Linked DNA regions of Homo sapiens: region 2 is linked to region 1. The links come from fine-mapping of genetic effects on gene expression. A gene starts in region 1. The other region holds a variant in brackets. All regions are shown on one strand. Distances are from middle to middle. Region 1 holds the start of CAB39 (calcium binding protein 39). Region 2 has its middle 33 kb from the start of LINC01907.

Region 1 (4,382 bases):
TTTAAAAGTCCATTCACTCCTATAGCAGAGATCTGTGTGCTTTCTTCCTCTTCCACACCTCATGACAACACACATCCTGCCAAGAAAAACTTTATTCAACAAGCAAGAGGATCCAAGTCTTACAGAGAAAGAAACATACTTCAAACAAGAAACTTTCAGAAAAAGTTCTGTCCACACTAGTAGTTATTAAGCCTAACTACTGCATTTCATCTGAGGTAAATAATACAACCTTGTCAGGAAAACATAACATGCTTAGAAGACTTCCATTGTTGAGTAAAAATTTTTTATATGAAGATATTTAATGACAAGAAAAGCTTAATAAGAGATGTGTGTGTGTATACATATGCATACAATATATTTCATTATGCAAAGAAAAAATACACAGAAAAAGACTGGAAAGAAAATACGCAAAAATGTTAGCAGTAACCAAATCTAAGTGGTAAGATTATAGAAAATGTTTTAAAGATTTTCTAGCACTCCCTGAATTTTGGAAGCTTTGACAAAGATCATGTATTATTTTGAAAAGCAGAAAATTTTTAAACTGCAAAAAGGTGGCATTCACTTGTCATACACGCAAACAAGTGCAAGCTTACAAAACTTAGGCCCTAAGCTGCTTTCACAGATCGTATATTCTAGATTTCGAATACAGCTGCTAATTACTTCCTAACAATTTGAACAAACTACAAAATAAAGCTAAACACTTTCACTTCTGGCTCTACTATAAAGATTTCATAATAAAATAAAATATAAAAACAAAGTTTTACCTTTCTGTAAAAGGTCTACGTCTGGCTTTCTACAGCAGAATATTACTAACCATTTTTTAAAAATCATCAATTTATGTTATTTTACACAAATGCCACCTCAAAGAATGTAGGTTTAGCTTAGTAATTCCAAAGTACATACGCCTAATACAAAGTGCAAGAAGTTTTTATGCACTGTAGCGAACGCACAAATAGAAACACCTTCTGTGTGCAGATGAGCTTATTTTATAGACACCTTTCCATTACCTCTTAAGAGCCTGATATCTAATGAAGCTTTCTGCAAAGGTACTTTGCTTAGCCTGGGCATGGATTTACTTGATTATCTGGGAAGCTGTCAAAATCGATCTGAAACTGCATTACATTCAAGGCACAGAATGTCAACTCCTGACTGGGCCTCCTCCTCTCTCCTTTCACAAGAGCGCCTTTAATATCCCCTAGCCTACATTTCCGGGCTCATGAGTCACTGAGAAATGAGCTCTAAGTTTCTCTTAGAATGCTGCTCAAATAGCTCCTCTACAGCATTCAAGGATCTGGCCCCAAAATACCTCTTTAGCCCAATACCCCCCGCCCCCTGCACCATGCCAACAAACGGAATTATCCATGATTTCTAGGCTTTGTCTTCTCGCTTTTGCTACCCCTTCCACACACCTCTTCTGCAATCCTCCTCTCCTAAATCCCATCAGGCCTTCAAGACTCTGCTCAGCATCCCCCGCCCAGGAAGCCTTCCAGGTTTCTGCGAGGCAGAAGTGATCGGTTCGGTTTTTCCGGGTGCCGTTCTAGCACTCCGTCGTTCTTTCACAGGACTTATCACCTCCTTCCCGGTATCGCAGTTATTTGTGTTCTCGTCTTATCTCTCACACCAGAGCCTAAGCTCCTCGGGGGAGGGGACCGGGGCCCGCTTCACCTTTGAATCCCTCCGGTGCGGGCCGACTACGGCGCCTGCACGCAGTCTGCGCTTGGGGTGGTTCCATTGAACTCCAGAACGCTCCGACCGCCCAATTCCTAACCAGAAATCAGTTAGGCATTTTCCTGAATTGGTCACAAAGCTGGTATCTGCCTCCCGACAACAGGAAGTTTACCAGGGGCGGGAGCGAGGCGCTGAAGCCCGGGTGCAGCCGGTGACAGTTGACCCGGCCCGCACTTCCCCGCCCGCCCGACTCCGGCCCGGACCACCACGCGCCGCCAGCCCCGCCAGAGAACCACGGGGGGAGAGGCAGGAGCGCCTGGACTGCAGGCCCCCGGGCGCCCCACGCCGGCGAAGGCAAAGGGAGCGTCTCAGCGAGGGACCGGAGCCGAGCCGGGCGGAGAGGGCAGGCTGGGCCCGGCTGCTCCCGGGGGCTCCGGGGACAAGCTGGGCCGGGGCCGCCGCCACCCAGGAAAATGGAGGCAGCCCCGGGGCCGGTGAGGGCCCAGCGGGGCAGGCGGAAGCCGGGCAGGCGTCCGCACCACGAGCAGGGCCGGCCGGGGGTCACTCACGGGGCTGGGCCGGGCGTTCCCTTCTCTGCCTCCGCGTCGTCGCTGTCCCCGTCCTCGGCCGCCGCCGCTTCGGGCTGCTCGTTCGGTCCCCGCGGAGTGGCTCGGACGCTCGGCCCCTCCGTTGTCTTCCGCCCGCTCCTGCTCCCGGCGACGGGCTCCCGCGGCGGCGGCGGCTGCGCGGGCGGACGGCTGCCCAGGGGCTCCCGCGGCTGCCGCCGCGCTGCTGCGCTCGCTTGGGCTGCGGCTGCTGCTGTGGGGCCCGGCGCCGCCTTAGTCTTCGCCTGTGCCCCCGCCCCGGCGCCTGAAGGCTCTGTGTCTCCCAGGCCGCGCCGCTCCCCGAACCCCTCGCCCCGCTTGCGGCCCGAGCCCGGCTTTGACGTGCGCACTGCGCAGCCGCCGAGGACGCGACGTCGGGCGGTGCCGCAACGCCCCCTTCCGCCTCGGGCGCCCCCGAGCGGCCGGCGGACTCAGGGCGCCGCAAGTAGGCGCGAGGCCCGAGCGGGAGGGGCCGCAGAGAAAAGCAGAAGCCAAGCCCCGCAGTTCCTCTTCCTCCGCCGCAGCTTCCAAGGCGGGGCTCAGCCCTTTCTCCTCCGCCTGAGCGCTCTTACTGCGGGAATCGCACGCCCACTTTCAACGACCACTTCCTCAACTCTTCAAGCTTAATTCTGCGAGAGGCCGGGATCCCACTTTGTGCAGACCGATTCTTACTTTCTTGGAGCAGATCGCTTCATTTTAGCATCCAGGGGGACACAGCATCCAGGGGGACAAGTGCCAGAACGTTCCAGATTAATGGGAATATTCCTATTTAAATCAGCAACCTGGATTTAAGTCCTGCTCCACCATTTGCTATCTATGGGCTGTTTCACGTCCCTGTGCCTGGATTTCCTCACACATTAAAAAAAAAAGTGTGTAATAATATAGTGGTACCAGCCACGGGCTTCTGAGGATGAACGGGACAGTGCATTGCAAAGCTCTGACAACGGAGCCTGGCACATACAAATGCCATATGTGTGTATTTTTGTTTCTTTGTTTTTAATGTGTAACTGAACTACTTTTTAAGCGCCTCCTGTACGTCAGGGATGGGGCAGTGAGCGAAACAGTCCATGCTCCTAGCACAAACAGTTGACAAATAATTGACTAATAAACCTACAGGTATGTATAATACTGGACAATTGGGCCAGGCGCGGTGGCTCACGCCTGTAATCCCAGCACTTTGGGAGGCCGAGGTGGGCGGATCACGAGGTCAGGAGTTCAAGACCAGCCTGGCCAACACCGTGAAACCCCATCTCTACTAAAAATACAAAAAACAATTAGCCGGGCGTGGTGGCGGGCGTCTGTATTCCCAGGTACTTAGGAGGCTGAGGCAGGAGAATCGCTTGAACCCGGGAGGCGGAGGTTACAGTGAGCCGAGATCGCGCCACTGCACTCCAGCCTGGGCGACGCAGCGAGACTATCTCCAAAAAACAAAAACAAAACAAACAAAAAACAACAACAAAAAAACAAATACTGGACAGTTAAAAACACCACTGGGTGAGGAGGGGAGAGAAAGCAGGGTGTTGTTATTTACAGTGTTCATTCAGGGAGCAGCTTCCTGGAGAGAGAGAGCCTGGGAGCTTTCTGTATGGAAAGGCAGAGGGAATAGCAGGACCAAGGCCCTGAGGCGAGAATCTGCTGGCTTGAAAGCGGCCCCAGATAGGGGAAGAGATGAGGAAGAAGTGCGGCCCTACCAACCAAAGTTAGGACTTCCTGTTTTTACTCTCAAGGAGATGGGAAGCAATTTGAAGGGTTGCGAGCAGAGAAAGGACGTGGAATGACATTTCAGGAGGATCCCTGTGGCTGTGGTATGAGGACCAGACTGAAAGCCCTGAGGGTTTCAGCAGGGGGACCAGCGAGAAGCCTGTTGAAATCAGCCAGCCAAAAGATAAGACTGTCCGGCCGGGCGTGGTGGCTCGCACCTGTAACCCCAGCACTTTGGAAGGCCGAAGCAGGGGGATCACCTGAGGTCAGGAGTTCGAGACCAGTCTGACCAGTATGTTGAAACCCCGTCTCTACTACAAATACAAAAATAACCCCAGCTACTTGGGAGGCTGAGGCTGGAGAATTGCTTGAACCCGGGAGGCGGAGGTTGCAGTGAGCCGAAATCGC
Region 2 (4,382 bases), 46 kb after region 1:
TTTGGCTGTTCACCAAAGGCCTCTGATTTCCACTCTCTGTGTGGGGGCCCCTCTCTGCCTCTGGTTGACTTCATTCTCAGCCTGTCGGACTTCCCGAGGCTCCACTAGACTCTGTCCTGGCTGTCATGACAACAGCGGCAGAGTCCCTGGAGAAGGCTGATGGGCGATGGGAAGGCTCTTACATCTAGGAGTTCTAGATGTATGTTTTTTTGGAGGCATGTCCCATAAACCTCGGGAATTCCTGAGCAAGTGCGTGTGTTGGGCCAAGGGCTGGGGAGCTGGGCCAGCGGTCCAGGTCCCTCTCCTCAACAAAAGGAAATGGATTTGTACTGGACTTCTTGAGGAGATCTAATGTCAATCCCAATAAGCTGTCTTCCTGATGGAGTTTCAAGGGTAATTTAAACTCTGAACTCTTTTAACCTTATTTGCTAACTTTAGACCTAACCTGCATGTAGCATGCTGTCACTGTGTAATAAAACGCTCATTCATTCATTCCACCCACACTTACCAAGGGCTTATTTTGAGCTAAGCACTGTGCCAGGGCTGGGGACACAGGGCTGTACTGTGGTTTCCAACCACAGTTACCCCACACACTGAGAAAGGGAGAGCTCTCTTTGTGAGGTGGTGGTCGGGGCAGATTTCCTGGGATGGGTGGGCCTGGGGCAGGTCAAAGAGAAATTGAAATTGGACAGAAAAAGGAGCTTTTTGGAGGGATGAGGGGGCATCATGAGTAAAGACAGCCTCTGCTCCATGTGCATTCTCTGGCATGGTGGAGATTAGTAGGCCTCAGTCAGGCTGAGAAAAACCTAAAATTAGCCTGACCAGCTGGGCCTGGGCTGTGTGGGACTCTCCCTCACCCCCCTTGCCTTCTCAGGTTTCAGAAAGCCCGAGTATGTGCAGGAACAGCATGCTTTGCCCAGGTCGTGGCAGGCAGATCAGGGCACCTGGGGCCGGGCCGGGCAGAGGGTGCAGCTCCCAGCAGGGATGTTGTCTTTTATACGGGTTCCCCAATTCTGCAGGCCTGGCAAGAGGGAAGGGGGAGACTGCCCTTCCCATCTTCTTCTTGATGCCACTTCCTCTTTGGCTTGTTCCTTCCCCTTCCAGATCTGCAAAGCCTGGCAGTGTGGCACTGCCCAGGCCAGCAAACCAGAGACACAGCACGGCAAGCCCCACCAGGGGAAAGAGGCTTGGATGGGCAACTTCCTGGACACTGGGGAGGAGCAACCAGAAAGCCTCATCCTCACCCACTTTACCCTGTTCCACCTTCCTTTCTGATCTAGCCTGAAATTCCCTCCGTTAGTCACCATCAGCAAAACCGCAGAGCATGTGCTATGATCAAGACTTAGAAGTTGTGTGAGAAGCTAATCTCACCTCCAAAGGTGCTGGAGCTGGTCTGAGTGGGTGAGGAGCAGCGGTGCATGGCACCACGTGCATGGTGGTGGGGAAGGTGGGAAAGAGATGGCCAGCCTGGTGGTGCTGGCGGTGGTGGGGGCTGGGCAGCAGGGTGGCCTTTCCCACTTAGTGTCCGTCCCATCCCTACATCAGATATTCATGACTTGTTTCTTCTCCCTAGATGGCACTGTCTGGTACTCTCTGCCTTCTCATCTTCCTCTAGTCTGGGGTCCCTCCTTCTGGGTCACCAACTCCAAGACAGTTTGCAAATGCCAGTCCCCCTATCTGAAACAGTGCTGGAAGTTTCTGGAGCCAGAAGCATTGCTGAGCATGGGTAGTAGGGGCCCAGGAAGGCTTCCAAAGAGATGGGGCTGA[T/A]GCAGGGCCCCAGAACAAGTTGCCCAGCCTGAGCTCATGGCCACAGTTGCTGTTATTTGCAGTTTTTGGAGTCTTACAATTTGCCCTGCCATGCTAGGCAATGGGTGACCACTGGCCACTCGCAGGCTAGACACCCTCAGATGGGGCCCAGGATTTTAAAATTTGTCAAATTAGATGCCCATTCAAAAACTGGGAGATTTCACGTGAAGTCAGAGTTTCTGACTTCTCTTGAAACATAAGAAGATAGGGCCCCATTTGAGGTGACTAACCAAGCTGGCTTCCTGGGACTCACCCAGTTTAGGCACAGAAAGTACCTTGTCCCAGGAAACCCTGGACAGGCTCCCAGAGCCCTGCAGGGCAACAGTAAACTGGAGTGGACTTGCTCACCCTCTAGGGCTCGTCAGCCCTGTTAGGGGCTAAATTGCACCCTCTTCAAATATGCATGTTGAAGTTCTAACTGCCAGTATCTCAGAATGTGACCTTATTTGGAAAGAGGGTCATTGCAGATGTAATGAGTTAAGATGAGGTCATACTGGAGTAGGGTGGGCCCCTGATCTGACTTCTGTCCTCGAAAAAGGGGAAATGGGAACACAGACACACACAGGGAAGATACCACATGCTGAAGGCAGAGACTGGGTGACGTGTCTCCAAGCCAAGGAATGCCAAAAACGGCCAGCAACCCCCAGAAACTCAGGGAGAGGCCTGGAATGGATCCTTCCCAGTGCTTTTGGAGGGAGCATGGTGCTGCTAACACCTCGATTTCAGGCTTCTGGCTTCCAGACCTGTGAGTCGACACAGTTCCATTGTTCTAAGCCACCCAGTTTGTGTGTACTTCATTACGGCGCCCTAGAAAACCAGTACACGCTCCTACCATGCCCTGCAGTTTTGTCATACATTCACCAGGCCTGCCTGGCCCCAGAGGCATTAGCCTTCTCACTTGCAGAAAATCCCCTGATGAGTTAAGCCAGATGTTGATGAGATCACTCCAGGGGTCCTGAGAGGGAAGGAGAAAGGTGGGTCTGGAGAGCATATGCCCCAGCCCTCAGGGGAGAGAGTGCTGGTGTCCCCAAGCAGCAAGTTCTCCAGTACTCACAGTATCCAGGAGGTGACCAGAGACCTGGGGGTGGGAGACAGGTGGGGCACCTGGGCTGGTACCAGGTGGCCAGCCTTGGCAGAGATCTCCCAAACTGTCGGGGACATTAGGAAACCACACCAGTGAGCTTGGGCAGCAAAGAAGCTGGGGCGACTTTGATGTACAAAAGATTAGGAGCCCTTCTGTGTGTTCAAGGCATCAGAGCCTCCTGGGTTCCGGTGGGTGAAAGGGGAGGTCCCAGTGGAGATGGAAAAGGAAATCTAGGTCAACCTTTCCAAATGACGTTGGCCTTGGAATGCGGTTGATTCAAGGGCAATAAAGAAAGTGTGTTAGGGCTGGGCGTGGTTGCTCACACCTGTAATTCCAGCACTTTGGGAGGCCGAGGTGGGTGGATCACTTGAGGTCAGGAGTTCGAGACCAGCCTGGCCAACATGGTGAAACCCCGTCTCTACCCAAAATGCAAAAATTAGCTGGGCGTAGTGGCGTGTGTCTGTAATCTTAGCTACTGGGCAGGCTGAGGCGGGGGAATTGCTTGAACCCGGGAGTCGGAGGTTGCAGATAGTGCCAAGATAGTGCCACTGCACTCCAGCCTGGGCAACAGAGTGAGACTCCATCTCAAAAAAAAAAAAAGTGTGTTATTTAATCCCCATTATACAAGTAAGGAAACTGAAGCTCGGAGCAGGTAAGGCTCCCAAGCTCACAGTGCTGGAAAGTAGCAGAGCCAAATCTCCCCCAGCCTTGGGTCACTGGAGCGGCTAGTTTCAACAAGGTCACACTGCCGCCGCCCCCACTGCAGTGGGCCGCCATGGGTCTTCTCGGTCAGCACTCACTGCCCGCTGGCTCTGCAAACCTCATTCTCAACCTGCGTTTGAACTGGAAGCTTTCGCTCTGATTCTCTCCCTGTTTCCAGGGTGGGTTTTTTTTTTTTTTTTTTTTTTTGAGATGGAGTCTCATTCTGTCACCCAGGCTGGAGTGCAGTGGTGCAATCTTGGCTCACTGCAACCTCTGCCTCCAGGGTTCAAGCAATTCTCCTTCCTCAGCCTCCCAAGTAGCTGGGATTACAGGCACCCGCTACCATGCAGGCAAATTTTTTTTTGTATTTTTAGTAGAGATGGGGTTTCACCATGTTGGCCAGGCTGGTTTTGAACTCCTGACTTCACGTGATCAGCCCACCTCGGCCTCCCAAAGTGCTAGGATTACAGGCATGAGCCACCGTGCCCGGCCTCCAGGGTGGTTTTAAGAAGGCAAGTCCGTGGGATCTGCCAAGTCATCTCATGCAGAGCGTTCAGGAAGATCATGGTCCCCCTGCCAGTTCCTGCGGTGTTCTTGAGGTCAAATAATATTCTTGTGGTTCGCTCATTCATTCATTCACTCACTCACTCAGCAAGCACTGAGGGAGTACATGAGGGACTGTGGATATGGCAGTGAACTATAGACCTGGTCCCTCCCTCCAGGAGCTTGTAGCACTTTTGTCTGGTGGCAACACGTGGTGTGGAGAAAAGAAAGCTGCTCAGCATGTTAG

The links.
Region 2: its variant is fine-mapped to the expression of CAB39 in whole blood (INTERVAL, PIP above 0.99).

Annotation. Positions count from the first base shown.
Region 1 is chr2:230,711,086-230,715,467 of GRCh38, reverse strand. CAB39 (calcium binding protein 39) reads right to left here and starts at 2,626. Exons shown (of 9, transcript NM_016289.4): 1 at 2,238-2,626. LOC124907996 (formin-like protein 16) reads left to right here and starts at 2,142. Exons shown (of 4, transcript XM_047446832.1): 1 at 2,142-3,389. The coding sequence starts at 2,142. The coding sequence ends at 2,900. RefSeq lists a silencer at 1,915-2,854.
Region 2 is chr2:230,665,338-230,669,719 of GRCh38, reverse strand. No RefSeq gene overlaps it. Among named protein-coding and RNA genes, the nearest start is that of LINC01907, 33 kb to the left of the region's middle. RefSeq lists enhancers at 613-752, 953-1,172, 1,553-1,632, 1,653-1,702, 1,743-2,222 and 2 more. The variant T/A (reference allele first, on the strand shown) is at 1,768.